Linked DNA regions of Homo sapiens. The protein of the gene in region 4 purifies or fractionates together with the protein of the main gene of each other region. This does not show direct contact. Each region holds a gene or a part of one and is shown on either strand. Other genes may lie near its edges.

Region 1 (3,500 bases), on a different chromosome or scaffold from region 4:
TAGGCATTTATTGCACGCAGAACCAGAAAGAAAGAGGTTCCCATGGGGTGTAAGTTCAAGCCATTTCTGGTGTAAGGGAAAGGTCCAGGTCATAAATATGCCACTGACCCTAGCACACTCAAAAGTTTATATACACTCTTCACTCAAGGACAAAATTCTTCTGTTGGGTTCCTCTGGTCTTTTGACATCTCCTACAGAGCTTATAGAATACAGTTAACTGTAAAATAAATTTTAAATAGATACATACGTTTCTGTGGCAGGATCATAAACTTCACAGGAATTAAGCACTCTCCCAGAAACATTGTTTCCTAAACTTCCACCACAAACATAGATTAGGCCATTGGCTTCCACCATCCCATGGCTGCAGCGCTGGGTCAGCATGCTGGGCTTTGTGTGCCAGCTTTCAGTTCTCGTATCATAGCACTCAAATAAATACAGAGCTGAGTTTCCTGTAAAAGAAAAAGGCCCCATCATGCTTAACTTTAGTGTGTGCGGGGGTTTGGAAAGAACTGACTGTAGATCTTATTAGTTAAGGAAGGAAGAATTTAGGGTCATACGGCCATTTTCATACTCAATCAACAACAACAAAGTGTAGGAATAGTTTAAGAAAACGCTAATAATCCTGTTTGTATAGACCCTGGAAAACATCCTTAAAAGGATCTGTTGGAAATACTTATTTATTGGTAATTAAACTTTAGAAAAATAAATTTGATTTCAAAAGAAAAATTAAATAAGAAGCCTTATATATGTCTTCAAGCCCCATTATGCATGACGGGAATTATCCATACTTCAAATGTTTATATAAAGTGGAAAAGCATAATAGTTCCTTACAGATGGTAGACCCATACCTTAAAATATGAAAACTACTATCTGATCATATTCTTATTTAATATTCTGGAATAGCTACAGCACCATTAACAAAATTATATTTCCTAACTATTCTCAGTTAGTGTGGTATATCCTGAAATCACACTGGTCCCTGCTTGAGTATATTCTCAAAATATTGATGTATATTTCTGATGTATTTTGATTACACAATTTAAAGGCAAAACATACATTCATCATGTTTTGAAACTTCTACACACTGTAGGAGTTCAATAAAAAATTTTAGAAATGATACTATTAAAGTTTAAGTGCTTTTTTTTTTCCTTCCCAAGGACAAAAAATTTTAGAAGTTACCAAACTATTTCTCATCTCCCACCATTCTGGGCTAATATCAAATGATTTAAAAACGACAACACCTTTATAATTCTGCGTTGCAACTAAGGTCTGTGAAAAGTAAAGATCAGAAAATAACAACTAGAAGAAGCAATGGTCATGACCAAAAATAACTTATTTTTAACTTTTTAAACATTCCTGATTTGGTAGGTTCAGTGGGTGGACACTATAGGAAAATATATAGTATATAGTAGATTAAAAAAAAACTACTACTTAAGCTAAAAACACACTTAGCAAAGGCTGAAGAAATGAAGTTATCTGCAGTACCACAGAACAGTTACCGTCTATCATCTTTAGGATTTATTGTATTTGAAATATTCTACATTATAACAGTCTGTGAAGAATGCTTTTAAAGAGAGGAAATGGTTACATTTAGGAAATAGTGATTTTTCTTGTATTCATTTGACATATAGTTGAGGGTAAAAACATAAGTATGCAGACCAAAAGTATAACCATTTACGGTCTCCCTAGTTTTCTTTATTAGCCCATTATTTAAGCTAAAGAAATTACTTGAAAATGAAAGCATACAAAAGCTATTATGTATCTAGCCTGCACCTATTCATTTAGAAAAATTATTCATTTAGAAAAAGAGCACTACTGGACACTAACACACTATCCAATAAGGTTTTTATATCCACACCCACATCCCATTCTGCTCAATAAGCATAAATACCACTACAGTCATTAAAAACTTAAAGAATAAAACAAATGAAAAAGAGCATTCTTTTTTCTAATAAAAAGAAAGCAAATATAATACAAATTTTAAAAGCCTGAATATAGTAACGAGTTCTTAAAGAGTCTATAAGTTGAACTCTGAAATCTTTAAAACAAATAATATTATGCAGCCCAAATAATTTAGAACTATAATTCAGATAATGTCAACTAATGCTTCATTATGATAAAAAAAATGGGCCATTAATCTAGGAAGCTAAAGTTCTGTAATTTAATGGTTTGTAAAGCAACGACATAAACCTTCAGGGAGATGAGCTCTAAAATGTGACAAACACATATTTAAATTACCAAGAAAGTATCTGGACAAATAATACCAGCTGTTTATTTAAATATGAAAGCCAAGATACTTGGCTTTAAAGCATATGCCCCAAACCAAAATACTTAAGAAGTCCTTACCTACTTCTGAACCTCCAGATGTATAAATTTTGCCTTCTGCAGCACATGCAGCAAGGCTGTCTCGAGGTGTCGGAGGACCCAGTTTCGAATACCAGCTATCCTTCACTACATTATAGCAGTCCATTCGCTTTATTGGGAAAAGCTGAGAGCCTCCCAAAATGTATACTACATTGTCCCAAAACACGCATGCTGCATCTCTTCGTTTTTCAAAGGGGCAGCGGATGTCTGTCCAGCTATAATCCTGTAGCAGAAAAGGATGGGAAGCTTTCAGTAAGGAAAAAAATATAACTGAAAAGGACAATGCAAAGATACAGTCAAAAAACATATAAGAATATGTTAATTTATTAGACTACACATACAAATGTTTGGCTTGAGACTATTACCAATTTAATCTTGTGTGGTTTCTGCAGAATGTTGATTAGATGGGGCGGAGGGCAAAAGGCAGGCACATGACTGCTTTGGGTCCTTTCTGGCTCTAAAATAAACTTAAATATATTTGGATATACCATCACCACCCTGTCTTCTATTCCTTCTGTTATTGAAGACAATACAAGAAGATTCTAAAATAAGTTGTTTTATTTTTTAAAAAAGCTTTTTCAAATGTAAAGGTCTCCATCCCTTCCCTGCCAGATATATAGTGTGATATAAGTAATCAATGGATAATATGAAGCTCAAATTGCCATTATCCTACTGATAGTCTAAAGCCAGAAGGTATTTTGTGGACTTCTTTATTAATTTTCTATATTGAGTTGAGCCAATGTAGTCAGCTGGACTTTAAAACTGTTGATGTTTATAAGGAAATACTTGAGTAATCTCTTCTAAGTACTCTGGATACTCACTTTTCACCCCAATGATTAGAAATACACACCTATCAGTACTTGACAGTAAGGGCTGTTCACAGCATCTGTTTCTTCACTATGTTTGATAGCATCGAAGAATGCTTGTGCCGCCCTTCCATGTATGTGCATGGGGGGATGCCCCTAAAGTTATAGTATCTTGGACCCTCTCTTTTTTTGAGATAGGAAGCTACAGCGTTCCTGCTATTTTCTGAAAATAATCAGGGTCAGATAGGAATTCATACCATTCCCAATCTCACCAAGGAAAGCACTATGTGTGATTATTGAGTTTCCTTCGAGAAAATCTGACTGATAACC
Region 2 (3,500 bases), on a different chromosome or scaffold from region 4:
AGGCAAAGTCAAAACAAAAGCTGAATGGTATTTTGTCTCACTGCACATATTCATACAGAAATGTGCGTACATGTGGACACTGAGTATATGTGTGCATACTTAGCTATTCAATTGTACTCATAACTGTATTCACATCTATATTTCCTTCAAAAAAGTCCTGGGGCAAAATAAGAGACAACCTGAGTAAACTCACTAGACTTAGGGCAATTGCTATTACGATTTTCCATGTGGTTTCCATAAGCAAGGTGCACACACTTGACACCACACACCACAATAGTCAAATGGAAGGGAATACAATAGGAAATGGTTCTGAATCATTAGTTCTCAGCACTGATTGCACACCAGACCATCTGGGGAATTTTAAAAACACTGCCACCTGACTCCCATCCTGCAAGATTCTCAGATAATTACCTTGGATGCCACCTGGGCATCCTGATATTTAAATGGTCCCCAGGTGATTTTTAATCACTGCCAAGATTGAGAGCCAATGATGTGAATCAATGATACTCCAGCACATGGGCGCAATAATCATTTCAACAACATAACCTTGGGGTCAAGGAGTGACCCATATTTAAATGAACCCACCACGCCTGTGGTGAAGTTGTCACTGAACTAATTTGGAGCATCTACCATGAATAGAAACCAGTCCAGCTGGAATGCAAGAAGTAAGCAACCAGGTCCTGTCTGGTGCGCCTGCCACCCCAAAGGCTTGGGTCAGGAGCTTCTGAGAACCAGAAGCCCAGATTCGAATCTTGAGAAGCAGCCAAAAGTTTTGCTACAGGAACACATCTTACAGCCAATTATTATGCATGTTATTGCCACCAAGTAGGCTTCATGATGAGGGGTGGAGGTGCTAAGGAAGGGCTCCTTTCTAGAACTTCACCTTGACATTTAAACTGATCCTAGAGAACTTTTCTACATTCAACAGTGTTGGGGAAATGAGTTTTATACTCAGAGGTTATGCCATAGTGAAGGATAGTTCTCTTTACTAGAAAGCCAACTCCAAAAAGGAAGCTTACATATCATTTAATTTTAAAAGTCACAGAATTAGAAATTTTAAGATACCCCAAATCTCAATACTCTAAACTTAAAGATATATCATTTACTAACAGTGCCTATGAAGTGCAGCTCACATATGCCAAGTGCACTGCTCCCAGCCTCCTCCCTGCATTGTTTTATACCCCGTGCTCCTCTGTGCCATCTGGTCAGGTGTGTCAATCCTCCTTGGCACTTTCTCATGATTCTTTTTTTCACAACTATTTCTATAGGAGCATCAAGGATGAAGAACAGTTGAATGCAGTTTTTCTCAGTGTCAAATACTATATATTACTCTTCAAATCAAAATTCAAAGTGGAGCCGGGAGTGGTGGCTCCCACCTGTAATTCCAGCACTTTAGGAGGCTGAGTTGGGCAGATCGCTTGAGCTCAGGAGTTCAAGACAAGCCTGGCCAACACGGCAAAACCCCCTCTCTACTAAAAATCCAAAAATTAGCTGGGCATGGTGGTGGGCACCTGTAGTCCCGGCTACTCGGGAGGCTGAGGCACAAGAATCATTTGAACCTGGGAGGCAGAGGTTACCGTGAGCCAAGTTCGTGCCACTGCACTCCAGCCTGGGCAACACAGCGAGACTCTGTCTCAAAAAATATATTTAAAAAAAATTTCAAAGTGGTACCTAATAAAAAAATCTTACAGATCTTTTTCAACAGGCTATTTCTCAAATTAAAAAGATACTAAAGAGAATAATAATTACTGAAGAGAAAATCCAAATGCCATTTAAATGTGTCAACAACCGTAACTCAGAGTTTTACAAGAGCTAAGATAGTAAAGAGGTAGACAACATCACCGCTAGAGAACGAGACAAACCCTAAAACTGAATTTTATAAAAAAGTATAAGCCTAAATACCATTCACATTTAGCTTACAGAACCTTAGACCATGAGCAACTGATGAAACGTCCAATGACAGACTATCAAGGCTTTACAAAGCACTGTATCTGAGAACTGGTAAGTATTCAGTTTGACAATATAAGATGTTCCAATAAGGAATTAATCAGGATAATAAACAAAGTATATGAACAATATGTCTAGCTTTCTAACAACAAAACAAGTTATTTCCAAGTTCTAGAAAGCCATATCTCAAGGGATTAGAACAGAGACCATTAAGGAGGAAGAGAGAACTTGAATTGGCAGGGAATGTGCTATATAATGGCACTTCCGTCTATAATCAACTTCAGAATGCATACTCCACAGGAAATAAGAGATACTATGGCTCTTCAAGCAAGCAATGGTGTGTTAAAATTAAAAAAAAAAAGAAATACTGTGGGGAAAAAAGAATGAAGGAGAATAAAGATATTAGAGTCAAATATAAATTCCGTATTATACCTAGGCTCTGGGATCAACACCACCTCCAGGCTTTCCTAATTCATGTGAGCATGGGTTAGCATTAAAAAGGCACTATTTTACTTTGAGGTGATTACATTGCTTTACTCAAAGAACTTGGTGGAATGGCTAAAGTTTTAAAAACAAACAAAACTAACGATACTAAGTATTAGTGAGGATGCAGGGCAACCAGAACTCACATACACTGTTTGTAAGAATGTAAAACCGTAGAGTTGCTCTGGAAAAGCTTGGCCATTTCTTATAAAGTTAAACATACAGTTACATGAATCAGCAATCCCACTCCTAGGTATTTACCCAGAATAGATGAAAACTATGCTCACACAAAAACCTGTAGGTAAGTGTTTACAGCAGCATTATTCATAATTGCCAAAACCCGGGAACAACTCAAATGTTCTTTGATAAACCATCTGTGATACTTCCATACAATGGCAAACTACTTCATCAAGAAAAAGGATGTACCACATCCTAACATGCACAACAGTGTGCCTGAATCTCAAAAACATGATGCCAGGTGAAAAATTCAGACTCAAAAGGTTACACAATGTGGGGCTGGGTGCAGCGGCTCACGCCTGTAATCCCAGCACTTTGGGATACTGAGGCGGGTGGATCACCTTTGGTCAGGAGTTCATGATCAGCCTGATGGGGTTTAGTAGAAACCCCATCTCTACTAAAAATACAAAATTAGCCGGGCATGGTGGCACATGCCTGTAATCACAGCTATCCGGGAGGCTGAGGCAGGAGAATCGCTTGAACCCAGGAGGCGGAGGAGGTTCCTGTGAGCTGAGATTGTGCCATTGCACTCCAGCCTGGGCAACAAGAGTAAAACTCCGTCTCACAAAAAAAAAGAAAAAAAGGTTACACAATGTATGATTCCACTTTTATGACATTCTGGAAAAGGCAAAACTAGGAAGATGGTAAACAGATCAGTGGTTGCCAGGGGTTAGGTGTAGGAAGAGAGTCTCACTACAAAGGTGCAGCATTAGGGAATTTAGGTTGGAGGCAGAGGACTCTTTGGGATAATGTTAACGGTGGTGCTTACATTACCTATACAGTCAACAAAACTAAAAAAAGAAAATAAAAGAAAATCCGTAATTTTTTTTGCA
Region 3 (3,500 bases), on a different chromosome or scaffold from region 4:
ACTTAGAAGAAGAAGCTGAAATACAGCCTTTTGCATCCCAAGTGACTGGATTATTTCCTTCTGTTGACACATCATTAAGTAGCTGACAGATTTTCTTTTATTGTAAAACTGGAATGTTGAATTTCCTACCAAGATTTACTTGCTGGCACTTCAGGTATCTTCTAACTTGTTTACATAGTTATATTGAAGTAGAAACACTGAAGGCCTTCCAAAAAAAAAAACAACAACTAACCTGTGAATTTTTAATGATATGATTAGCCTCCAGCTGGATAGTAAATGTAACACCAAGTTCTGACGAAAAGGATTTCATTGGTGATAATGTACCAGATGTCAAAACAATGGTCTGAACTTTGCCATTAATATCTGAAAAGGCCTAAAAGAAAACAACATTAGATAAATAAAATTATCTTTAGAAGAGGCTGGGCAAAGTGGCTCACACCTGTAATCCCAGCACTTTGGGAGGCTGAAGCAGGAAGATCGCTTGAGTCTAGGAGTCTGAGACCAGCCTGGGCAATATGGTGAAACCCCGTCTCTACAAAAAATACAAAAATTAGCCGGGCATGGTGACACATGCCTATAGTCCCAGCTACTCGGGAAGCTAAGGTGGGAGGATCGCTTGAGCCTGGAAGGTCAAGGCTACAGTGAGCTGAGATTGCACCACTGCACTCCAGCCTGGGTGAAGAGCAAGACCCTGCCTCAAAACAACAACAACAACAACAACAAACAACTATCTTTAAAAGAGTCAACCACATTTATTAAAATGCTGGTACTGAGCAAGAAGACAAAATTTCCATTTACATGATGAGCTTACCACAGCTGGATTTAAGCACCAAAAGTTTAGCACATGAACTGCAGTTTTCTGTCGTGAACGTTTCTTATTTTTTGGTAGAACCAACAACCCATTTTTGTCTGAAATATCAATCTGATTTGTCCAGGAGTAAGTCTGTTGAATCGCAATTTTATAATCATCTGCAAATCTAGATGCAAAGAAAGTGCTAATTAAGTGGCAAAACTTTTAAAACCTATGACCCAGCTACATACAATATAAAAACTGATTACATTAAAACTCATTTGAAAGAGCTGGTACCTTCCCATTCAAAAATAACATTCTCCTTACCATTAATTAAATTCAGTAATTCTGATATTAATAAAGCCATTAATCATAGAATCAACTGATTCTCAGAGGGAATATTAGAAATCATCTAACCATCTATCTTTTATCAGCTACTTCCTAACCTCATTTTCAAACATTACATATGTCATGGCAGAAGCAGAATTAAAATCCAGGCCTCCTAACTCCCAGTCCAGAGCTCTCTGCATGCTCTACTACATGATGAGTTACAAAATAGAAAACAGTATTATGGTTAAAGAGACTAAAAGGTGGGTTATACTTTTTTATTAAATGAGAAAATAGAAGGATAATTTTTACTGAAAGTTTTTAAAGTATTAGCAACAAGTTATAAAATTCTTACATTCCTTTGAAACCTGAGTCTCAGCCTTCATCTACTTTTAATGAAGGTGCTGAACCAGATGATATCTGTGATCCCATCCAGTGTATAACTGCTTTCAATAAGAATCTAGAAAATGGTTAAGCTTAAAAATAATAAAATGTGGCCAGGCGCGGTGGTTCACACCTGTAATCCCAGCACTTTGGGAGGCCGAGGCAGGTGGATCACGAGGTCAGGAGTTCGAGACCAGCCTGGCCAACATGGTGAAACCCCGTCTCTACTAAAAATACAAAAATTAGCCAGGTGTGGTGGCAGTCGCCTGTAACCCCAGCTACTCAGGAGGCTGAGGCAGGAGAATCACTTGAACCCGGGAGGTGGAGGTTGCAGTGAGCTGAGATAGCGCCACTGCACTGTAGCCTGGGTGACGGAGCAAGACTCCATCTCAAAAAAAAAAAAAAAAGTAAAATGTGATATTCTCTACCATGTCTTCGCTATAGTATTTCCTTATTCATTTCACTCCTAGAGAGATTAGATCTCAAAATTAAAGTTGGGAACTTAACAACTGTGGAGAGAATCTTATAAAAATACTGGGAGCCAAAAACTGTAAAACTCTTAAAACAAAGGGGAGACCGGGTGCGATGGCTCACGCCTGTAATCCCAGCACTTTGGGAGGCCGAGGTGGGCGGATCACGAGGTCAGGAGATCGAGACCATTCTGGCTAACACGGTGAAACCCCGTCTCTACTAGAAAATACAAAAAATTAGCCGGGCTTAGTGGCGGGCGCCTGTAGTCCCAGCTACTCGGGAGGCTGAGGCAGGAGAATGGCATGAACCCGGGAGGCTGAGCTTGCAGTGAGCCGAGATCGCGCCACTGCACTCCAACCTGGGTGACAGAGCGAGACTCCCGTCTCAGAAAAAAAAAAAAAAAAAGGAAAAGAAAACATAGGGGAAATCTTCATATCAGATTTGGCCATGATTTACTGGATGTGACACTAAAAGTACAGGCAACAACAAGAAAAGAGAAAGATAAATTGGACTTCAACAAGATTAAAAACCTTTTCTGCATCAAAGGACACTATGAATAAATGAAAAAACAACCCACAGAATGAGAGAAAATATTTGTAAAGTATATATCTCTTACAGGACTGACATCCAGAATATCTAAATAACTACAGCTCAACAACAACAACAAAAAAACCCAATAATTCAAAAGTGGGCAAAAGACTTCAATAGATATTTCTCCAAAAAAAGACATACAATTGGCCAATAAGCACATGAAAAGATTCTCAACTTCTCTAGTCATTAGGAAATACAAATAAAAACCAGATGATATCACTTGATACCTATTAGGATGGCTATTATACAAAAAATAAAATAACGAGTGTCAGCAAAAACAATTCTGATATATGCTGCTACATAAACTGTTGGCAAGGATGTGTAGAAATTGGAACCCTTGTGCATTGATAATGAGAATGGAAAATAATGCAGTTGCTGTGAGAAACAGTATGGTGAGTCCTCAAAAAGTTAAATGCAGCATTACCATATGATTCTGCAATTCCACTGCTAGGTACTTATATACACCCAGAAGAACTGAAAGCAGAACTCAGATATTTGTACACCAACGTTCATAGTAGCATTGTTTACAATAGGCAAAAGATGAAAACAACCCAAATGTCCATTAACATAAGAATAAATTAACAAATTGTGGTATATACATACAATGGAGTATTATTCAGCCATAGAAAGGAATGAAATTCTGATATATGCTACTACATAAATGAACTCTGAAAACACTGTGCCAAATGAATTGAAATAAGCCAGACACAAAAAGACAAACATTGTATGATCGCTCTTATGTGAAATACCTAGAAAGGACTTCATAAGATGAAAATAGAATACAGGTTAGCAGGTGATGAGGGGAAAGACTCTAGGGGTTATTATTTCATGGGTACAGAATTCCTATTTGGAATAATAAAAAATTTCTGGAAATCTCTGGAAATGAGTACAATGTACAACATTGCAAATATACTGTACTTAATGGCACTGAGTTGTA
Region 4 (3,500 bases):
CTACCTCCTGGTCCCCATGTCTTGTTTCTACCCAACAGAATATGGCAAAGGTGATGAGATGTCCCTCCTGTGATTGTCATTATTATTATTATTATTGAGACAGGGTCTTGCTCTGTTGCCCAGGCTGGAATGCAGTAATCTTATCACTGCAACTTTGAATTCCTGGGCTCAAATGATCCCCTTGCCAGGCATCCACCTCCAGAGTAGCCAGGACTATACAAGTGCATGCCACCTCACCTAATATTCAAATTTTTAGTAGAGATGAGGTCTCACTACATTGCCCAAGTTGGTCTTGAATTCCTGGCCTCAAGTGATTCTCCCATCTCAGTCTCTCAAAGTACTGGGATTATAGACATGAGCCTTGACACCCAGCTCTGTGACTGTTCAACACTGTAAGACGGTTGACAGCTTGCTTGATCTAGACACCCTCCTTGCTGGCTTGATGAAGTGGTCCTTTTGGGAAAGACAAGGAACTGTGGGTTGCCTCTAGGAGATGAGGCAGGCTTCCAACTGACAAACAGAGAGCAGCTAAGACCCTCAGTCCTACAGCCACAGTGAAAACAATTCTGCCTCACTACTACAACTGCAATTAAACAAAATGAAATATGAGTGACAGATTCTTCCCCAGTCAAGTCTCCAGGTGAAAACACAGCCCGGCAGACACGTGGATTGCTGCCTTGTAAGCTCCTACACAGAAGAACCAGTTAAGCCAAGCCCAGACTCCTGACCCATAGCAACTGAAATCAATGTGTTATGCAGCAATCCCACTTCTAAGAATTTAAATTAAAGATACTCTCCTGCACACATACCCGATGAAAGGAACTGAGATTTTTCTGCTAGCAAATGTGAGCTTCAAGGTCTTGATGCCAAACACTATATATCCTTGACCATTTGAGATGTGACTGAATATCACTTATATCTGAGCTCTGAATGTACATTAATATGTTGGGTCAGTTAAGAGCCCAGGTACTGAGGGTCTTCAAGTTTTTGGTTTTTTTTTTTTTTTTTTCTTTGAGATAGCCTTGCTCTACTGGCCAGGCTGGAGTTCAGTGGCATGATCTTGACTCACTGCAACCTCTGCCTCCCAGGTTCAAACAATTCTCCTGCCTCAGACTCCTGAGTAGCTAGAATTACAGGTGTGCACCACCATGCCCAGCTAATTTTTGTATTTTTAGTAGAGACGGGGTTTCGCCATGTTAGCCAGGCTGATCTCGAACTCTTGACCTCAAGTGATCCATCCGGCTCAGCCTAAGTGCTGGGATTACAGGCGTGAGCCACCACACCTGGACAGGTCTTCAAGTTTTAAGAATTTTTTAAAAATTTGAGCTCCATTTTTCTTCAGAATGATCCATGCCCAAATACAGAACTATGTTGACAGTGGGTTACAGAGTTTGCACGGCAAAGTTCAAGTTGTTACACTGTGTTTTTAAAAAATCTTATCTACCCCGTCTCTACTAAAAATATAAAAAAAAAAATTAGCCAGGCGTCGTGGCGGGCGTCTGTAGTCCTAGCTACTCGGGAGGCTGAGGCAGCAGAATGGCGTGAACCCGGGAGGCGGAGGTTGCAGTGAGCCGAGATCGTGCCACTGCACTCCAGCCTGGGCGACTGAGCAAGACTCCGTCTCAAAAAAAAAAAAAAAATCTTATCTATATGTACTGTTAAATCAGAGACCATGAGATCTACTTATCAGAACCAGGAAGATAAATTCTTCAGAGCTATTTCAACTGATACTTCTTTTCCTCAAAACTTGGTGGACTGTCGGGGAAAGGGCCCCACAATTTTTTGTCTTTGATATTAGCTCCAATTCTCATAAGTATATACAGGCCCTATAATTGCAGCAGAAAAAGATGCATGATGGAAAATCTCCATAACCCATGCACGGAGACCTGAAAAATCATCCTTACTGGGTATAATTTATTATGGTGCAATTAAGTGCCAACTGATATTTCTCACCATGGACTGGTCAGGAACTGCTGCAAAGAAAAATAAACAGATCCTTCTGCATTATTTATATTCTAAAATGTGGTAAGGGGAAATCAGGAGAAATTTCTTCTGAAATTATATTATGGATTTTTTAAAAGATTATCAAATAAAGTTATTTTTAAATAAAAATTAAAGTTATACCTCCAATAATATAAAAATACATATGCATAAAGTTATTAATTTTAGCATTATGTATAATTGCTAGATACTGCCAACTACCTAAATAACCTAACGTAGGAGAAAGTTGGTTGAATAAACTATGATACATCCAAATAACAGAGTAATCTTCAGCTGGGAAAAAAAAAAATGACTGAAGATCTCTGTGAAATGACAGCATAGCTATTTCCAGGATACACTAAGTGAAAAAAGCAAGGTACAGAATACATGTATGCTATATTATCTTTTGTGGATGACCAAAGAGGGTAATTATAAAGAAAAACAAAAAGGCCAGGCACAGTGGTTTATGCCTGTAATCCCAATATTTTGGGAGGCAGAGGCAGGAGGATCACTTGAGGCCGGGAGTTCAAGACCAGCCTGTTCAACATAGCAAGACCCCTGCCTCTACAAAAAATACTAAAAAATTAGCTGGGAGGCTGAGGTGGGAGGAGTACTTGAGCCCAGGAGTTTAAGGCTACAGTGAGCTACGATAACACCACTGCACTACAGCCTGGATGACAGAGCAACACTTTGTGTCAAAAAAAAGAGAGAGAGAGAGAAAAAAAAAAAAACCACATCCACTTACTTAAAAAAAAAAAAAAAAAAAAACCCCAAGAATAAAAGGATGAATAAACAAGATGCCAATGATACTGATTATCCAAATGGGGTATAGAATAAAGGGAGGGAATAAAACACCAGGAGGCTGAAGATTAAAGGGAGAGCTAATTTGGGTAAACTGCAAAGAATAAATTCACTATACAACCTTAGTCTAAGGGAAAAATAACTATTAGCAAATCCCGAACTCCTTTTAGTAGGTTTCTTTTTCACAGAGGTATGGATGAAGCAATTCTGAAACCATTCTGTGTGTACTGTAGACAACTGGGCGAATAAGTAAACGTATTGATGTTGTTGGAAGTGAGGTAAACAGATACAGAAAAGAGGGAAAACCAAGGATAACCCTATAGAGTTGGGACTGGAATTAAGAGTTATCAGTATGAACCACAGTAAATTATGAAACTTGAATATAGACTGTAAATTACCTAACAGTATTCAGGGTTAAATTTTCTCAATGGTTTCAGACACACACATACATAATGCAAGGGAAAGAGGGAGGGAGGGAAGACGGAAGAGGAAACAATAAAAGCAAATGTGGCAAAATGTTAAAAACTGGTGAATTCAAGTAAAAAGTATAAGTGAATTCAGGAGGTCTCCATATAATTCATGCAATTTATCTGTAATTTTAAAGTTATTTCAAAATAGTTAAAATAGCCAGGCATAGTGGTAGGTGTCTGTAATCCCAGCTACTCGGGAGGCTGAGGAACAAGAATCACTTGAGCCCAGGAGGCGGAGGTTGCAGTAAG
Region 5 (3,500 bases), on a different chromosome or scaffold from region 4:
GGAAGAAAACACACCATGGTAATGGGACACAGCGTGATGGGCGGTGGGGGCCTCTAGATGAAGTGGTCAGAAAAGCAGACCTCTCTGGGGAGGTGACGTCTGAGCCAGACCTGAATGACTATGGGGCAGTGACCTTCTAGAAGGCAGAGAAGGAGGCTTCCAGGCAGAGGGAGCGGAACGTAAAAAGACCCTAAGATGGAAAAAAGCATGTCAGGTTTACGGAAGCACGAGAAGGCTGGTGTGGCCTCTCTAGTGAGCACAGGGGAAAGACGCTCCATGCCGTGTTTGCAAATATGTGTGCACGTATGTGCCTGGGGGGGAGGGCAGTGCAAGGCCTCTGGGCCATGGGAATGAGTTAATAACCAGTGAATTAAGTATTCTTCAGGTAACTGATAAATGTTGCCAATTATCCCCTATGTCTTAGATCTGCTTAGTATATTTTCATTTCCAGCGAGCTCACAAAAGTCTCCTATAACCAGGCAAATATACTTCCAAAGGTAGCTCCTTTTCTAGTCTGTCTCCTGCCACCAGCTGGAATGAAATTAATTATGAGGTTAAGCAGAAATACAAAAGCATCTACCCAGTCAGGAGTATCCCATGTCTTCCTCCTGAAAAGATGGCCAAAGAAGTCAATATTTAGCACCCCAAAGTGCCACAGGTGTTTTAAAGCATGGGAGGAAAAGATATTTCTATTTTCTAGAAGGCTGTGATTAAAAATGAGATTAAGATGAACTCATCCTCTCATATGAGATGAATAATATTAACACAAATGTGTCACCACAATGCAAAACCTGTCTTCGATGCTGTAATCACAGTTACCTCCTCTGCCAGTATCTAATTCCCATAAGGGACAGACACAGGCTTCCAAGGACTTGAATCTTTCTAAAAAAATCCATAGTTTCCCAGCCAAATAAATAAGACCCAAGCAACTTATGGGTCTGTTCCACATTAGACATACACTATTAAAAAAGGCCAGTGAGGCCAGGCACGGTGGATCAATCCTGTAATCCCAGCACTTTGGGAGGCCGAGGTGGGTGGATCACCAAGTCAGGAGTTCAAGACCAGCCTGGCCAATATGGTGAAACCCTGTCTCTACTAAAAATACAAAAATTAACCGGGTGTGGTGGCAAGCGCCTGTAGTCTCAGCTACTCGGAAGGCTGAGGCAGAAGAATTGCTTGAACCCAGGAGGTGGAGGTTGCAGAGAGCCGAGATCGCACACGCCACTGCACTCCAGCCTGGATGACAGAGCGAGACTCCGTCTCAAAAAACAAAAACAAAAACAAAAAACGCCAGTGAAATTGTCTTCCACAAGTAAAGAAAGAAACAAGCTCAAACAGGCAACTGAGGAACTTGCCACGTTGGTGTGTCATGGCACAAGAACAATTCATCTGAGAGCGTTTCACAACAGGAGACCAGGAGTAAGCTGATGATCTACTGACCACTGTATGCTGTGCTGTATTTGGCTGATGTGGGAATAACTAACTTTCCCAAATGAGAAAAACTGTGTGTCTGACGGCAATCAATCTACTGAGCACGTGCCTTGTTCATTAAGTACCCGTGAATAGTGTCTAGATATTTCAACACTGCTAAGTACTTTTTTAGGAAATCTGATTTTCATAATGTTGAGGCAGTAATATTTCTGGAATTTATTATTTTATAAACTGGCAAATGGTGTTTGGGTCAGTAAGTATGGACACTAGTGCTATTGTTTATCTAAGGAGTCTTGGTCCATTCTTGGTAAAAACACTCCAGAAAACAGAAACTGATGGCTCCTTTCTGAACATGCTACTCTGTATACTTCAGCCCTAATGCTGGCAACTTACTCAGTGGGGAACACTTCATTAAGATCAGGGCCATAGGGCTGGGCATGGTGGCCCACATCTGTAATCCCAGCACCTTGGGAGGCTGAGGCGGGCAGATCACGAGGTCAAGAGATTGAGACCATCCTGGCTAACATGGTGAAAACCCGTCTCTACTAAAAATACAAAAAATTAGGCTGGGCACGGTGGCTCACACCTGCAATCTGAGCACTTTAGGAGGCCGAGACCGGCGAATCACGAGGTCAGGAGATCGAGACCATCCTGGCTAACACAGCAAAACCCCGTCTCTACTAAAAATACAAAAAATTAGCCGGGCGTGGTGGCAGACGCCTGTAGTCCCATCTACTATCGGGAAGCTGAGGAAGGAGAATCGCTGGAACCCGGGAGGCAGAGCGTGCAGTGAGCCGAGATCACGCCACTGCACTCCAGCCTGGGAGACAGAGTGAGGCTCCCTCTCAAAAAAAAAAAACAAAACAACAACAAATGATCAGGGCCATAGCAAGGCTGCCCACTCTATTACTTCACACAGAACTGGAGGTGTTAGCCCAGGCAGTTAGACAGAGTAAAGAATGAGAGCATAAAAACCGGGAAAGAAGTCATTTCTATTTGCAGTTGATAGGACAGTACGCCTGGCAACCCTAAAGAATCAATGAAAAACTAATGCAAACAGAAAAAGAAATCAGTTAGGCGGCAGGATAGAAAATCAAAGTATGCAAATCAACAGCTTTCATATACCCAAGAGAAGATGAGCATCTAGCCTCTATGTAATGTAAAATAACAAAGTCCTTTTCCTGTGAGTTTCTACCATGTCTGTCTCCCCCAGCCAAACTACTATAGAAGGTTGTTTTAAATCTAAATTTATATCAGTCGAATTACATCTTAATGCATTCATCCCAGCCTTCCAGACTGTCGAAAGTTTTGAATTTTGCCCTTTGACAGATTAACAATCTCACTCAGCTGTGTATCTTGTACAGACAAGGCCTTCTACTCACTGTTCCAAACAATCTCTAAAAAACTGTGACCAGAGGCCGGGCGCAGTGGCTCACGCCTGTAATCCCAGCACTTTGGGAGGCCAAGGCGGGCAGATCATGAGGTCAAGAGATTGAGACCATCCTGGCTAACACGGTGAAACCCCGTCTCTACTAAAAATACAAAAAAATTAGGTGGGCGTGGTGGTGGGTGCCTGTAGTCCCAGCTACTCCAGAGGCGGAGGCAGGAGAATGGTGTGAACCCGGGAGGCAGAGCTTGCAGTGAGCCGAGATGGCGCCACTGCACTCCAGCCTGGGCGACACAGCAAGACTCCGTCTCAAAAATAAAAAATAAATTAAAAAAAAATAAAGAAAGAGTAAGAAAAAAATTACCCAAAGAGCATATGTAAAAGTACCCATGGTAAGGCAAAGCCTGTCCCTTTCTGTCTTTTTAAGTCCTATCTACCCTAAAGGCACTGCTCAAATCCAACTAGGGCCAGAGGCCCATGATTCCCAAACCTCAATCATCCACTGACCATCTTCAAGAAACTATCTTTCACTCAAATGATTCCTTTTTTTTTTTTTTTTTTTTTGGTGACAGTCTCACTCTGTCGCCCAGGCTGGAGTGCAGTGGCGCGATCTTGGCTCACTGCAAGCTCTGCCCCTCCAGGTTTAAGCAATTCTCTGCCTCAGCCTCTGGAGTAGCTGGGA
Region 6 (3,500 bases), on a different chromosome or scaffold from region 4:
AACTCTTATGTGGATTCCAGATTCTTTTTTTTCCAGGTATGTCTTATAATTCTTTAGTGTATATTTTAATACATTTATTTACCAAAATATAATAATGTTTGTCAGTTAAATTTTTTTTAATAAAAAAGGTTAACTCTTAAAATTATATATTTTTGAACTTGGAAGATAGATAACTTACTTTTAGTGGTCTTTAACATTTGGTAAAGAATTAGCACATTTGTTTATACTCAGATTTTAAAAACTAACTTTAGATTATTAATGACTTCCAGTTTGCTGAGTGGGAGAATTTCAACACTTCGAGATGAAACTGGTGCTGTGAGTATAATAATAATTGATACATATTCCTAAATTAATGCTTATAGTGCTTGGTCCTAACATATAGTTACTCTAAGAATATAGGAGAACTGATATTTTAATAATCACTGAATGAAAGTGGCATAATTTTATTTCTTGTCATATGTAGTTTTTTATAATCAGAGAAGATCCCTAAGTAGGGAATACTATATATGGCAATTTAAGTATTCATGATTAGAGAGATTGTAGGATATGAGCTTACATTGGCATTAGAAGAAATTTTTTTAGATCAATAATTGAAACTTTAACAGTAAGTGGATAAATGTAAATATTCTAATATTTTTATATTAGAATATAAGAGGTTAAATTAGTAAACTCCTACAGTTTTTTATTTTATTTTGGAGAATAACCTTGCGAATTTGTTTATACAGCATTGGTACAGTGAGGGAAGGAAAGAATTGTAAAGTTTCAGTGCAAAAAAATTGGTTTATCCATTTGGAGGCAACAAAGTGACCAATGGTATTTATTTGCTGTGGTGAGATTTGCAGATGAAATAAGGCAACAAATGCAGATATGTCCATGTGAAATTATAAAAAGTTATCAATAATAAGATCTCCACAAATCTGTGATGTCTCTTCGATTTTTGATGTGCTCTAATGAAAACAAAAGAAAATTTATAAAGCTTAGAAGAATCTCATTGATTGTATATATATAGTTGATCATAGTAGGAAGAGTTTTATTACTGGCTGCCATTTCCCTTTCTAATTGATTTACATAAGCTTTAAAAGATGTTCCGTTTTTATGGCCAGATCTTTTGTAAATGATTCAAAATAGGTGTTGGTATAAATTTCCATAAAAAGTTATCAATTATGGGCTGGGTGGGGTGGCTTATGCCTGTAATTCCAGCACTTTAGGAGGTCGAGGCAAGTGGATTACCTGAGGTCAGAAGTTCAAGACCAGCATGGCCAACATGGTGAAACCCCCTCTCTACTAAAAACAGAAAAATTAACCCGGCATAGTGGCAGGTGCCTCTAATCCCAGCTACTCAGGAGGCTGAGGCAGGAGAATTGCTTGAACTTAGGAGGTGGAGGTTGCAGTGAGCCCAGATCGTGCCACTGCACTCCAGCCTAGATGAGAGAGCAGGATGCTGTCTCAAAACAAACAAACAAACAAAAGTTACCAATTATGTATTTTACATTTTTAAGCAATTTGTTTTCCTCTTATGTATTCTGTGGTGCTTTAGTTTAAAAAAAAAAAATTGTCATTACCTTTCCCCAGCTCTGAAGGAAATTGAGATTAGTAAAAGTATTATGAGAATAGTATTCTTTTCCACTTTTGACAGCAGTGTGCAGTATTTACTTTTCTCAAGTACCCCTGTGTGCATTATTAAAGTACATTGTAGTTTTAATGATTGAACAGTATAAGAAAGTATTATTTATTCATGTTTTCGAAGTATTAATTGAATTCTAGACTGTTTCAGATAAAAATGTTTCCTCAGGTGTCACTTTTACCAAAGGTATCAATACAAGTGATTTTATTAGACAAGATTTTTTCTATGTATTAAAATATCAGTTTAATAATAACTATTCAGAGGAAGAAAAAGACACCATCTCAAGAAAAAGACACCATCTCATGAAATGCACACAGACTACATTCCAATTTTAGAAACATTAAAGTTTAAGAGTGGAAACAAGGAAATGTAGTATTTAAGTAATTAAGACTTCATTCCCTATTAGTGTTACAGATATTAAAGTTAAAAGATTAATTTGTAATTTGAAAATAAAACTGTTCTCTTTTTTACAGATATTTATTGATAGAGATCCAGCAGCATTTGCACCCATTTTAAATTTTCTTCGGACAAAAGAACTAGACTTAAGGTAAGAAATGCACTCTTTTTAAAGTAAATTCTTACTGATAAATATGTGTTTTTAATATGTTTTATGAAATAAAAGGTTTTTTTTGTTTGTTTTTTTTTTTCCTTGAGTTGCAGTCTTGCTCTGTTGCCCAGGCTGGAGTGCAGGAGTGCAGTGGCATGATCTCTGCTCACTGCAACCTCCGCCTTTCAGGTTCAAACAATTCTCCTGCCTCAGCCTCCCGAGTAGCTGGGACTGTAGGCACATGCCACCATGCCCGGCTGATTTTTTGTATTTTAGTAGAGAAGGGGTTTCACTGTGTTGCCCAGGCTGATTGCAAACGCCTGAGCTCAGGCAGTCTCCCCGCCTTAGCCTCCCAAAGTGCAGGGATTACAGGAATGAGCCACTACGCCCAGCCAGAAAAGGTTTTTTTTTTTTTACTAAGACTTTGATTAAAAGTTTCCTCACACTGAAACTGGATGTGGTGGTACACGCCTATAATCCCAGCTACTCTAGAGAAGAAGCTGAGGCAGGAGGATCCCTTGAGGCCGGGAGTTTGAGGCTGCAGTGAGTTATGATCATGCCTCTGGCCAGTACTGCTGTACTGTTAACACAAATAGTTTCGAAATAGAATAAGAAAGTTTGAAGCTTTTTTTTTTTGAGACTGAGTCTTACTCTGTCACCCAGACTCACTGCAATCTCCACCTCCCGGGTTCACGCCATTCTCCTGCCTTAGCCTCCCAAGTAGCTGGGACTACAGGCACCCGCCACCACACCCGGCTAATTTTTTTGTATTTTTAGTAGAGATGGGGTTTCACCGTTTTAGTCATGATGGTCTCCATCTCCTCACCTCGTAATCCACCCGCCTTGGCCTCCCAAAGTGCTGGGATTACAGGTGTGAGCCACCGCCCCCAGACACAAAGTTTTAAGCATTTTTAATGTTAAACTAGTCATAACCAGTTTCACAAATAAAAACAATTTAACATAGTAATTGTATATATTTATCAAGGCTGGGGAATATTTTTAAAATAAGGACAAATTACAACTGAAACCTAAGATGAATTATTAGTATTATAAGTTCTGAATCTTCCATTTTTTAAAAATTTTATTTCATGTTACTTAACTTTACTACTATGAAGTAGCATCATTTCATCTGGATAACATAGCCCTTCCCAAGGCTAGTCTTTTTTTTTTTTCTATTTTATTTGTTCAACAAATATTTATTACATAACTATTTTATACAAGCACTATGCTAGGCACTGTGAGGTATACAAACATAGATCAGAAATAGATCATGCTCGCAGGGAATTTATAGTGTAATTGGGGAGATTAAGATAGATATGTATAGAAATA
Region 7 (3,500 bases), on a different chromosome or scaffold from region 4:
AAAAAGTCTAGCTAATAATTTGCAGAGTAGGTTGTATTAGAAAATGTTCTAATAACTCAATGGAATGGGGCTATTGATTTGAAGTAAAATCTGGTATATTACAACATCAAAGATCTCCTATTATGCAAAACAAGTTTGAATGCACCTCATGTGTACTTGGTGTTTTTTTTTTAATAGATTTTAATTTGTTTCATTTTATACACTTGAAAAGTTTACTCCCTTATTTGATTCAACATATTTGCAAAATCTGCCAACAGTGTAAATGTTGAAAGTTCTAGATGGGGTTTTGAAGAAAGGGCCCTGGGTTTAAACTCAGTCTTGATGTATTATCAGCACCATTTAATAGCTAGTTGTTTGACTTCAGGTATGTTTCCTGCCTTCTCTGAGCCTGTGGTTTCTCAGCCATAAAATAGAGCTGATAGTACCTGCTCTACTACCTCACAAGATTTAAAAGAAAAAAAGATAGTGTAGGGCAGTGGTTCTCAAAGTGTAGTCCAAGGAGCCACTGGAGGTTTCATGGGTCAATAAGGATCTCCCTTATGTAAGAACAGATTCTCAATATACTTGAACCAAAACAAGAGATGACAACAGATTGAATGCAGAATCAGATAAGAGAGTCCAGCTGTATCTGTTAAAGCCAGATATTAAAGAGGATTGCAAAATGTAAATTAATATCACCCTTCTCACTTGTTTTTGAAAAATTTTTTAGGAAAAAATATGTTAATATGTAATGGGTTTATTGCTATTTTAAATATTTTAAAATTTCTTTTAATTTTGAATATAGTAAATATTGATAAATATAACCTATATAAACAACAGCTCTTCACAATCTCTAATACTTTTTTTTTGAGATGGAGTCTCGCTCTGTAGCCCAGGCTGGAATGCAGTGGTGTGATCTCGGCTCACTGCAACCTCTTCCTCCCAGGTCCCGGTTCAAACAGTTCTCCTGCCTCAGCCTCCCGAGTAGCTGGGATTACAGGCACACGCCACTGTGCCCAGCTTTTTTTTTTGTATTTTTAGTAGAGACGGGGTTTCACCATGTTGGCCAGGCTGGTCTTGAACTCCTGACCTTGTGATCCGCCTGCCTTGGCCTCCCAAAGTGCTGGGATTACAGGCGTGAGCCACCGTGACTGGTCTGTAATACTTTTTAGAGTGTGAGTGGATCTTGAGACCACAGCTTTTTAGAACTGCTGATAAACAGTAATGGTTGAGTAGGGCTGCTCTGCCTATGGAGTAGCCATTCTTTTATTTATTTTCTAATAAATTGCTTTCGTTTAAAAAGAACACAATGTTGGGGGAGGGGGTAATGGTTGAATAGTTCCTATCAGGACAGTTTCCTGCAGATAACTATAAACTTGATACACTTTTTTTTTTTTTCCTTTTGAGATGGAGTTTCGCTCTTGTTGCCCAGGTTGGAGTGCAGTAGCGTGATCTCAGCTTACCGCAACCTCTGCCTCCCAGGTTCAAGCAGTTCACCTGCCTCAGCCTCCAGAGTAGCTGGGATTACAGGCATGTGCCACCACACCCGCTAATTTTGTATTTTTAGTAGAGATGGGGTTTCTCCATGTTGGCCAGGCTGGTCTCGAACTCCCGACCTCAGGTGATCTGCCCGCCTCTGCCTCCCAAAGTTCTGGGATTACAGGCATGAGCCACTACGCCCAGCTGATAAAAGTTTTAAAAATTAATAGATGGCATTTGAGAATTACAAAAACTAGATTGAGGTCTGCAACTGGAAGAGGAGAACAGCAATGAATAAGCTTCTGTTTTTATGGCTTTTAGACTGGCATAAGGTCCCAGCTGGTGATATGAAGAGGTGGCTACAACTGTAATAACAACCTGTAATCTCTCTTGAAGAAAAGAGGACAGAGCTCACAGTGATCATGCAGCTGGAAAGTGCAGGAGAAAATCCTAGAAAGAATGTTGGAGTGGCAGAACCCCAAACACTGTTTATAAACTCTGCTTGAATTTCTTGCAAACCCCTCAACTGTACATGTGTGGAGCAGCCTCCAAACAGCACACTTAAGGCTAAAGGAGCAGAGATTTCAGCTGCTGTCCACCATAGGGGAGGCAGAACTTGGAGTTTAAGTCCAGCTAAGGTAATTGTCTGCAAAAAACAAAAACACAAACACTCTTTGGAAGAATATTACAGAATCTAGAGTGAATTGTATTAATCACAATACCTAGACTATAATCCAGAAACAATCACCCTAATCAGTGGAGACTGACCCCATAATTAGCCAAAGGTTGGATTTAGCAGAGAAGATTTAAAGCAGCAGCTATTATAACTATGCTCAAGGATGTAAAGCAAAATGTTGTATATGTGAACAAATAGGAAATCTCAGCAGAGAATTAGAAACTTTAAAAAAGAATGAAATGAAAATTTTACATCTGAAAATACAATATCTGAAACAATCTTGAATAGATTTAACAGATCAGATATGACAGATAAGTCATTTAATTTGAGGATAGATTAATAGAAATTATCTAATCTGAAGTAGAGAAATAAGTTATTGTATATGAAAGTTCTCTGTAAACTTCAGTGCTCTATGTAAGTTTCAGAGTTTATTACTCCAGGTTTCTTTCATATGTAAAGGGAAGAGGTATGTTTGGGTCTTCTGATCTGCAGCTTCCTTAATGTCCTGTCCTGTCATGTCTGTGTCTAAGCTTTATACCCTCTGGTTTCTTTATTTTTATTTTTTTATTTTTTTTTGAGACAGAGTCTCGCTCTGTTGCCCAGGCTGGAGTGCAGTGGATCTCAGCTCACTGCAACCTCTGCCTCCTGGGTTCAAGTGATTCTTCTGCCTCAACCTCCCAAGTAGCTGGGATTACAGGCATGTGCTACCACACCTGGCTAATTTTTGTATTTTGAGTAGAGACGGGGTCTCACCATGTTGTTCAGGTTGGTCTCAAACTCCTGGCCTCAAGTGGTCCACTCACCTTGTCCTCCCAAAGGGCTGGGATTACAGGCGTGGGCCACTGCGCTTGGCCTAGCCTCTGGTTTCTAATATCCCCTGCAGTCAGATATTTGGCCCTTGCTGCTTTCCTGTACTATTGTCAGAGGTTACCAGGAATCTTTTGGTCAGTACACTCGACATGTTTGTAATGGGCCTCACCCCCATGTTTCTCTTCAGTGTTTTGCACCATTGCCATCTCCTTTCTGCAAGGTCATTGCCTTTCCTCAATGACGATGTTTTCTTTTTTCTCCTCCTCTGTCTTATTTTGTCTTTTCTGTTTTCCAAAGATTCATTCTTAGCTTTTTTCCCTCTTATTTCATTCTACTTTTTAGTCTACTTTATTATTTTCATACTTGGTTACTTCAGCCTTGTCGTTTCAGAGGCCTCTTCTCCCTCTCTGGCTCTGCTCTCTCTAGAGCCCTGTCCTGCTTCTTGTCCCCGCTGATCACTAAACATTTCTACTTAGATACCTGGTAGACACTTGGAGCTCAGAGTGTCTGAAGTGAAACCCCTATTCTTCTTCTTCTTTTTTTTTTTTTTGAGGTG

What was found.
Region 1: the proteins of CARNMT1 (region 4) and KLHL7 purify together in Homo sapiens (affinity purification with mass spectrometry; 3 studies listed by BioGRID and IntAct, with this or other methods). This does not show direct contact.
Region 2: the proteins of CARNMT1 (region 4) and MAP7 purify together in Homo sapiens (affinity purification with mass spectrometry; 3 studies listed by BioGRID and IntAct, with this or other methods). This does not show direct contact.
Region 3: the proteins of CARNMT1 (region 4) and BRIP1 purify together in Homo sapiens (affinity purification with mass spectrometry; 4 studies listed by BioGRID and IntAct, with this or other methods). This does not show direct contact.
Region 5: the proteins of CARNMT1 (region 4) and TAB1 purify together in Homo sapiens (affinity purification with mass spectrometry; 4 studies listed by BioGRID and IntAct, with this or other methods). This does not show direct contact.
Region 6: the proteins of CARNMT1 (region 4) and KCTD3 purify together in Homo sapiens (affinity purification with mass spectrometry; 3 studies listed by BioGRID and IntAct, with this or other methods). This does not show direct contact.
Region 7: the proteins of CARNMT1 (region 4) and ZBTB25 purify together in Homo sapiens (affinity purification with mass spectrometry; 4 studies listed by BioGRID and IntAct, with this or other methods). This does not show direct contact.

Annotation. Positions count from the first base shown.
Region 1 is NC_000007.14:23,164,785-23,168,284, reverse strand, and holds part of KLHL7 (kelch-like protein 7), read right to left. Parts: intron 2,588-3,500; coding exon 2,347-2,587; intron 450-2,346; coding exon 248-449; intron 1-247. UniProt on the Homo sapiens protein: Substrate-specific adapter of a BCR (BTB-CUL3-RBX1) E3 ubiquitin ligase complex. The BCR(KLHL7) complex acts by mediating ubiquitination and subsequent degradation of substrate proteins. Probably mediates 'Lys-48'-linked ubiquitination.
Region 2 is NC_000006.12:136,540,423-136,543,922, forward strand, and holds part of MAP7 (ensconsin), read right to left. Parts: intron 1-3,500. UniProt on the Homo sapiens protein: Microtubule-stabilizing protein that may play an important role during reorganization of microtubules during polarization and differentiation of epithelial cells. Associates with microtubules in a dynamic manner.
Region 3 is NC_000017.11:61,780,029-61,783,528, forward strand, and holds part of BRIP1 (Fanconi anemia group J protein), read right to left. Parts: intron 978-3,500; coding exon 812-977; intron 374-811; coding exon 233-373; intron 1-232. UniProt on the Homo sapiens protein: DNA-dependent ATPase and 5'-3' DNA helicase required for the maintenance of chromosomal stability. Acts late in the Fanconi anemia pathway, after FANCD2 ubiquitination.
Region 4 is NC_000009.12:75,011,294-75,014,793, forward strand, and holds part of CARNMT1 (carnosine N-methyltransferase), read right to left. Parts: intron 1-3,500.
Region 5 is NC_000022.11:39,406,280-39,409,779, reverse strand, and holds part of TAB1 (TGF-beta-activated kinase 1 and MAP3K7-binding protein 1), read right to left. Parts: intron 1-3,500. UniProt on the Homo sapiens protein: Key adapter protein that plays an essential role in JNK and NF-kappa-B activation and proinflammatory cytokines production in response to stimulation with TLRs and cytokines.
Region 6 is NC_000001.11:215,573,804-215,577,303, forward strand, and holds part of KCTD3 (BTB/POZ domain-containing protein KCTD3), read left to right. Parts: coding exon 1-36; intron 37-263; exon of another isoform or gene 264-269; coding exon 270-315; intron 316-2,097; coding exon 2,098-2,171; intron 2,172-3,500. UniProt on the Homo sapiens protein: Accessory subunit of potassium/sodium hyperpolarization-activated cyclic nucleotide-gated channel 3 (HCN3) up-regulating its cell-surface expression and current density without affecting its voltage dependence and kinetics.
Region 7 is NC_000014.9:64,493,839-64,497,338, reverse strand, and holds part of ZBTB25 (zinc finger and BTB domain-containing protein 25), read left to right. Parts: intron 1-1,779; exon of another isoform or gene 1,780-2,096; intron 2,097-3,500. UniProt on the Homo sapiens protein: May be involved in transcriptional regulation.